Homo sapiens: one gene and its partner. The protein of the gene in region 2 purifies or fractionates together with the protein of the main gene of each other region. This does not show direct contact. Each region holds a gene or a part of one and is shown on either strand. Other genes may lie near its edges. The genes, in order: PSME4 and SEPTIN10.

Region 1 (3,823 bases), about 56 Mb from region 2:
TTTTTTTTATGTTCCACAGATGTATCACCTGGTTTGAAAACCACTGGACTGGCCAGGCGCGGTGGCTCATACCTGTAATCCCAGCACTCTGGGAGGCCAAGGCAGGCGGATCACGTGAGGTGAGGAGTTCGAGACCAGCCTGACCAACATGGAGAAACCCAGTCTCTACTAAAAGTACAAAACTAGCTGGGCATGGTGGCGCATGCCTGTAATCCTAGCTACCCAGGAGGCTGAGGCAGGAGAATCGCTTGAACCTGGGAGGCAGAGGTTGCAGTGAGGCAAGATGGTACAATTGCACTCCAGCCTGGGTGACAGAGCAAGACTCAGTCTCAAAGAAAGAGAGAGAAGAAATGTTAAGTGTAAACCAAATACAGAAGTAGTCAACCTCAAGGTTCCAAATGGGAATATTTATAGTATGTGCTGCTTTTAACATTCCAATAGAGGTCTCAATGAATGTAGAGGTTTTCTGTTGCTGTTGTTGTTTGCTTACCGTTTTTACTACCATGCTCTCAGTTTGGTGTTCATATAGAATGAGATTTTGATCTAATTTTCTACAAAGGTTAGACAGAAACATAGATTAGGATTTTTGTATTTGAAAAGGAGGGAAGAGGCGCTAGGTGCAGTGGCTTATGCCTGTAATCCCAGCACTTTGGGAGGGCGAGGCAGGAAGATTTGAGCCCAGGAGTTTGCGACCAGCCGTGGCAACATAGTGAGACCCTGTCTCTACAAAAATAAAAATAAAATAATAAAAACCTAGCTGGGTGTGCTGATACATGCCCGTGGTCCCAGCTACTCCAGAGGCTGAGATGGGAAGATCGCTTGAGCCTGGGAGGTTGAGTTTGCAGTGAGCTGTGACAGCGCCACTGCACTCCAACCTGGGCGACAGAGCAAGACTGTCTAAAAATAAGGGGGGGAAGGGGGATGTTTGAAATGCTCATTCCCCATTGCTGTAAAGAAACAGCACTTCAACATAAATTTAATTTCCTCAGCAAGGCCATTTTTATACTTTCTGCAGAAAAGGTACACTCGCCAGCAGTTTTGCCAGGAGAGTACACCCAACAAAGGAGACAGGGTCATTTATAACCCGAAGCGTCCACCCTACTGTTGTGTCCGGTTTCCACTTGCTAGAACGGGACCTCACATTCTGTATTTGTCCCGATTGGCTAGCAACTTAGAACTTTTTAAAAGAGGCAAAGGCAGAGAACAAAGGAAGGAGGAAGTAACTTGTGGAATGCTGAGAAAGATAAAAACACCTTCAAATAAGGAAGAGGAACAGGCTATGACCTAATGCTTGCTTGGACCAGTATAAGCATGCCAGGGCAAATATTTAGGCTAAATTGTGGGAGCTAAGAACATAAAGTACATTGATTTCTTCATTATGGCTAGCAGATATTTAAGAATGTTTGCAAGGGTCTTTGAATAAATTTTGCTTGTAAGAGAAGTTACTATTTATTCCTAATTAGATGGGGAGGAAAGTCTTTGAAGAGGAACCTCTACTTTTTACAGGGGCGAAAGGGATTCTCTAAAAATAAGTCTCATTTAGCAGAAAAAAGTTAATTCCCAGGTTCCATAAGAAAAACAGTTCTTAGAAGTTATATAGTTATATGCTTATTTACAAGCTTGCCAAAAAAAAAAAAACAGTAAAAATTTGCCTCCACTTCAATTAACAACAGGTATTTCAAATACAATTTTATTTTACAACACTGCAGAAAGAACACTTGGGAAAACCATTCTTAAGTGACATTCAGATCTCAGAACATCAAACGGTACATTTCTTTTTTCTAACTGCCTTTCTTAGTGCCTCAAAGTAAGGCATTAAAACACAGTGGTCAGAATGAGATTTTCTTTTCAAATAATACATTCAGAATTCCTATTTTCTTCAATGTTTTTGATGAAGTTACCACCTGGCCTAGTCTGTCCTAAATGAACAAAAATGTGCACTGAATAAAGCACACAGCTGGGCACGGTGGCTCACGCCTGTAATCCCAGCACTTTGGGAGGCTGAGGCAGGCGGATCATGAGGTCTGGAGATCGAGACCATCCTGGCCAATAAGGTGAAACCCCATCTCTATTAAAAACAGAAAAATTCGCCAGGCATGGTGGCTGCACCTGTAGTCCCAGCTACGCAGGAGGCTGAAACAGGAAAATCACTTGAACCCAGGAAGTGGAGGCTGCAGTGAGCCGAGATCGCGCCACTGCACTCCAGCCTGGGTAACAGAGCGAGACTCAGTGTCAAAAAAAAAAAAAAAAGGACACATACCATATGCAGTGGCTCACGCATGTAATCCCAACACTTTCCCAACACTTTCAGGAGGCAAAGGTGGAGGATCACTTGAGCCCAAGAGTTCAAGGCCAGCCTGAGCAACATAGTGAGACTTTGTCTCAAGAAAAACTTTAAAAATTAGCTTGGCGTGGTGGTATATGTCTGTAGTCCAAGCTAACCAGGAGCCTGAGATGGGAGGATCGCTCGAGGCCAGGAGCTCAAGGTTAAAACAGGGGGGTATGATTGCACTCCCTATGATTCCAGCCTGGGTAAGAGACCAAGACCATCTCTTCAAAAAAAAACACACAAAAAAGAAAGAGCGCACTGAAACTTCCAGAGGGCAGAAAACTTGCGCTGATACATCCCAAACGCCAAAACCAGTGCCCAGCCCACGCATTGCACTCAAAAAATTGTGTTCAAAGAAGATTGATGTCTGCCTCTACTACACTGTATTAACCCATGACTGTACACTAACCTATGAGCCTCTTGTGTCTTCATTTTTTAAATGAAGGTAACTTAAGAGAATACTTGTTACCCCAGGATTGAGTCTAAGTCTTCAAAGGTAAAAGGCAGAAATGAAAGATGTCATAATGTGAAAATGTTCATTAATGAGCTATTTTCTTGATCTCTGTCCATGAGATTTGATTACAGTAAACCTTAGGCAAAAAAATGCAAATGAAATGGAAACTCAGAAGTAAAATCACAAATTTGGCAAAGAAGCAGAACCTTATGAGATTGATCAAAGTGATAATAGATGTTAATTTTTTTAGGTTTTATAATAGTATTGGTATTGCTTTTTTTAAAAAATTCCTTTTCCTTTGAAGATATATACTGGAAACATTCATGAATAAATAATATACTTCAAAAACAATGGGGAAAGGGGATGATGAAAAGAACATAACTGGCCATGAGTTAATTAAGTGAAGATAGGTGATGAGGTTCATTATATTGTCTTTTGAATATTTGATATTTTTCATAATAAAAAATATGTAATGAAAAGAGTTTAAATATTAGAAAACTTCAAATCAGAAACACACATATGCTCATTGGCCAGTGATGTTCAGGAAGAAATAGCCAATTAACTAGTGAAAAGAAAACGACAAGCTGTTTTCAAGAAATTACTGAGAGATCTCTGGAAAACAGTAAGGGCCTCAAATATTTTTGAAAAAAAAGTATATGTGTGACATCATCATGAAAAATCAAATGTATGCATGTGTAGAGACAGAGGGTATACAGGAACTCTATACTTTCCATTCAATTTTGCTGTGAACCTAAAATTGCTCTCAGAAATAAAATTTTTGAAAAAATCAAATATGAAATATGTCTTATTGTGCTATTACATTATACAACTTTATCAAAGAAATTCATGTTCTCCAAAATCAGTTCCTTTTTTTTCCCCTTATGGAAAATCAACTTTCTCACTACAAAGAAATTTTGGTTCCCATTTTGAATGATCACTTAACAACAAAGTAAAACCTCTTCTATCACTCTCTCTAACTGGTTCTCACTGATGAGTTTGGTAACTTGTCAAGATTTCAAGATTCATTTACAAATAAAACC
Region 2 (3,823 bases):
TTAAATGTAACATTTCTAAAACCTCTGGATTACCAACTACACCCCTAAACTCTCTGATTCCCATCCTCCTCAGGTCAATAACGATCACCACCAGTCACCCCATTTTCTAGGTCAAAGTGGTGACTGAGTTATCCTTGATCCCTCTCTTTCCTTCAAATCCCATATGCAAAAATAATTTATCAGTGGGTCCTATGGACTTTAATTTCAAATTACATATCCTTAGCCAGGTGTGATCCATCACTGTAATCCCATCACTTCAGGAGCCCAAGGCAGGCAGATCACTTTGTATTTTTAGTAGAGATGGGGTTTCAAGACCCCAGGAATTCAAGGCCAGGAATTCCTGACCCCAAGGCCAGGAATTCAAGACCAGCCTGGCCAACATGGTGAAACCCTGTCTCTACTACAAAAACACAAAAATTAGCTGGGGGTGGTGGTGCATGCCTATAGTCCCAGCTACTCAGGAGGCTGAGGCATGAGAATCGCTTGAACCCAGGAGGCAGAGGTTGCAGTGAGCAGAGATCATGCCACTGAACTCCAGCCTGGGCAACACAGTGAGACTCTATCTCAAAAATAATAATAATAATAATAAAATTAAATTTAAAAAAATACATGTCTTAAGCATGCTTCTCACCCCTCTGTCACTACCCCTCTCTTTCACGCCTCCATCTTCTCATGCCTGGACCACCATGGCAACCTCCTAACTTGGTCTCCCCACTTCCACCTGCCCCCCTCCCCCAACTCTCTTCTTCACATAGGGGTCCTCCTCCCACCCCTCAACAGAGACTCTACACAAGCAGGGTCTCTATTTGATCCAACAGTGCACATACACCCAATGACTAGCATTTGGCTGAGCAGATAGCAGACAAACTATTTGCTGAATGACTAAGAATTCTGACTGCAGATTTCTAGGCTTCATCCCTGGAAATTCTGACCCTGCATTTCTTAATCATCCACAGGTGACTGATGATGACTCCACCAGACACCTAGGCCTGTCTCCTCAGAGAGGACTTCAAAGTTGTCCCTGCCCGCTCTTACTCAGGACCCCTTCCACCTCAGTGCACAGAGGCCTCTGAAGTGACCCTGAGACTTGGAAGAAATGAGAAGTGAGTCTCCTCTGAGAAACACTAGGGAAGCTAACTCGAGATGATTAATCTTTAGTGAAGACAATATCATGAGAAAATTGTCAGTTTACGAGAATGACTGGCCCACAACCAGAAGCATCCTATGCCTGAATTTGGTGAGGGTGGGTTAAGTACACACAATGCTTTTTTTTTTTTTCTTTGAGATGGAGTCTCGCTCTGTTGCCCAGGTTGGAGTGCAGTGGCACGATCTCAGCTCACTGTAAACTCTGCCTCCCAGGTTCAAGTGATTCTCCTACCTCAGCCTCCTGAGTAGCTGGTTTTACAGAAGTGTGCCACCATACCCAGCTAATTTGTGTAATTTTAGTAAAGACGGGGTTTCACCATGTTGGCCAGGCTGGTCTTGAACTCCTAACCTCAAGTGGTCTGCCCGCCTTGGCCTCCCAAAGTGCTGGGATTACAGGCCATGAACCACCACACCCGGCCATAAGTATATACAATTCTTAATTCATTATGCTACCAGAAGTGAAAACATTAATTAACTCCATAGACTGAAGAAATTTAAAAATTTAACTTCATCTAAGATTAAGTCTTCCAAAAGCTTATATGCAACAGCGGCACTAATTTGATGCACTCCTCCCCCTTTCTTTTGTTTACTCTGGTGCAGGTGCTAAGAACCAGAGAAATAACAAATGCAAACAATGCAATGGAAAAGGAATCCTCAGTCTCATAAGAGAGTTTAAAATAGCACTTGTCCCAAGGATCTCACGCTTTCCTGCATGCAAACACTGTTCTGGAATGCTACATCAAATTGATCTGATTCAGTACACTAAGGATTTGAGTTGCATAAAGTCTGGGATACAGCACCATATAAAATTACCAAGGAAGTTTCTACAACTTTTAATGCTTTATATTACTGAGCAAGGAAGGGTTCAGATTCTAAAATTCTTATAACTACACTGTAATATGGCAAGAAACAATCTAATCTCCAACTCCCTACAAGCACTCTCCTTCTTCCTTTATAATATGTTTTGCTAAGCTTCACTCATTCCAAAACCTTTACAGAAGAAAAACCAACAGAAAATGTTTTAGTTTATTTTAAATGATTCCTGAGGACTGGTATGGAGGCTCACATTTGTAATCCCAAAGCTTTGCGAGGCTGAGGTAGGAGGATCACTTGAGGCCAGGAGTTTGAGACCAGCCTGGGCAACATAGTAAGACCCTGTCTCTACAAAAAATAAATAAATAAAACTAAGAAAATGATTTGTGTTCCAACTTACCTTTATGACAACAGTTAAATATATCATCGTCTCAGATAAATACAAAAAGAAATCAAATAATGAGGGTATTTTCCTTCAGTTACTCATGTCAGCATGAACTGAAACAGGGGGCCTCTGCCATACATTCTTCATCATATTTAACTCTTTTTGAGTCAGACAAGGACTTAAAAAGCAAGACTCTTCAAAAGCAAGAAGGAGTCAAGTGATTCAAGAAGCACAATAATTAGTCATTACCAAATGATTCTATATCATGGTTTTGGGAGATTCTAAAGAACACATGCCCCATCATCCTGGATATATAAAAATATGCAATCCTCTCTAACTTCCTCTTTGGTTGGCTTCCCAAGAACCCCACCCTACCTGACTGGCTTGTTTTCTGGGCCCACATCTGTAAAGCCCATTTCCTCCAGTTTGCAGCGCCTGTAAAGCTCATAGTGCCTGGTATGGGTCTGCTCTCGCAGGTCCTCCATATTTGTACAAATGAGCATTTCCCGCAGCTTTACAAAGTCACAGTGGTTTTCATTTTCCACTAGCCAAAAAAAAATAAGAAAAGAACAACACTGGATTTTAATTCCTGGCACACAACTAAGTGTTTGCTGAATGAACAAATAAATGAAAACATGTGAAACAACAAATAGCAAATGATCAGTTTGATTAACAGCTACGATTATTTTATACATGTAACCAAGGAAGAAACTCTTGCAGTATAAATACTGTATCATAGGCAATGTGAATTAACAGACCAGATTTACTTTAAATTTAGTAGCCAATGAATCACCAGGAAATACCAAAAAAGACACAACTTATTGTTAACCAAGTGTTCTAGTTATTTCACACTAATATTTTGTTAGCAGTTTACAAACTATCCTGAAGACATTTCACATAATGTTTAAAGAGTATGTAATATTAGTTCACTAAAACTTCAAAGTAGTAAATTCTGCAAACTCAAGAATACTATCCTTCCCTGCTATAATTATCAAATTCTTTTTATAGAACACATTTATGATCCTGTGTTAGACACTATTCAAAATTAGTGAACACACTTACATGATCCTTCTTCTATGTTTACGGTGACCAGAGGACTACAAATAAATATATTTTATTGTGACCAATACTCTTAAGTATAATTATTACTTTTACATTTTTTATAAAATTAAAAATGTTATATTTTCTCAATTTTTTCATTCATTACAAAATTTATCAATTAAGAAAAAAAATCAGCATTTGGAAATCCATACTAGTAAGGGTAATCTATTCACCATTAATTAGCACTATAAGTAAATGAACCATATAATACTATTTACTTACTCATTATAATGTCAGCTAAATAATCTAAATGTCAAGTAGATTTAACTTTTTAAGTTGGCTGACTGGCTTATTCTGGAAATAGCCGGCAATACTTTGATCAGTAAAAATATATAAATTTATAAGATGGTTGACTGTTCTTATACTTAAGTGGTAATT

Evidence for each region.
Region 1: the proteins of SEPTIN10 (region 2) and PSME4 fractionate together in Homo sapiens (co-fractionation; one large-scale study listed by BioGRID). This does not show direct contact.

The regions. Positions count from the first base shown.
Region 1 is NC_000002.12:53,960,776-53,964,598, forward strand, and holds part of PSME4 (proteasome activator complex subunit 4), read right to left. Parts: intron 1-3,823. UniProt on the Homo sapiens protein: Associated component of the proteasome that specifically recognizes acetylated histones and promotes ATP- and ubiquitin-independent degradation of core histones during spermatogenesis and DNA damage response.
Region 2 is NC_000002.12:109,561,647-109,565,469, forward strand, and holds part of SEPTIN10 (septin-10), read right to left. Parts: intron 2,889-3,823; coding exon 2,720-2,888; intron 1-2,719. UniProt on the Homo sapiens protein: Filament-forming cytoskeletal GTPase. May play a role in cytokinesis.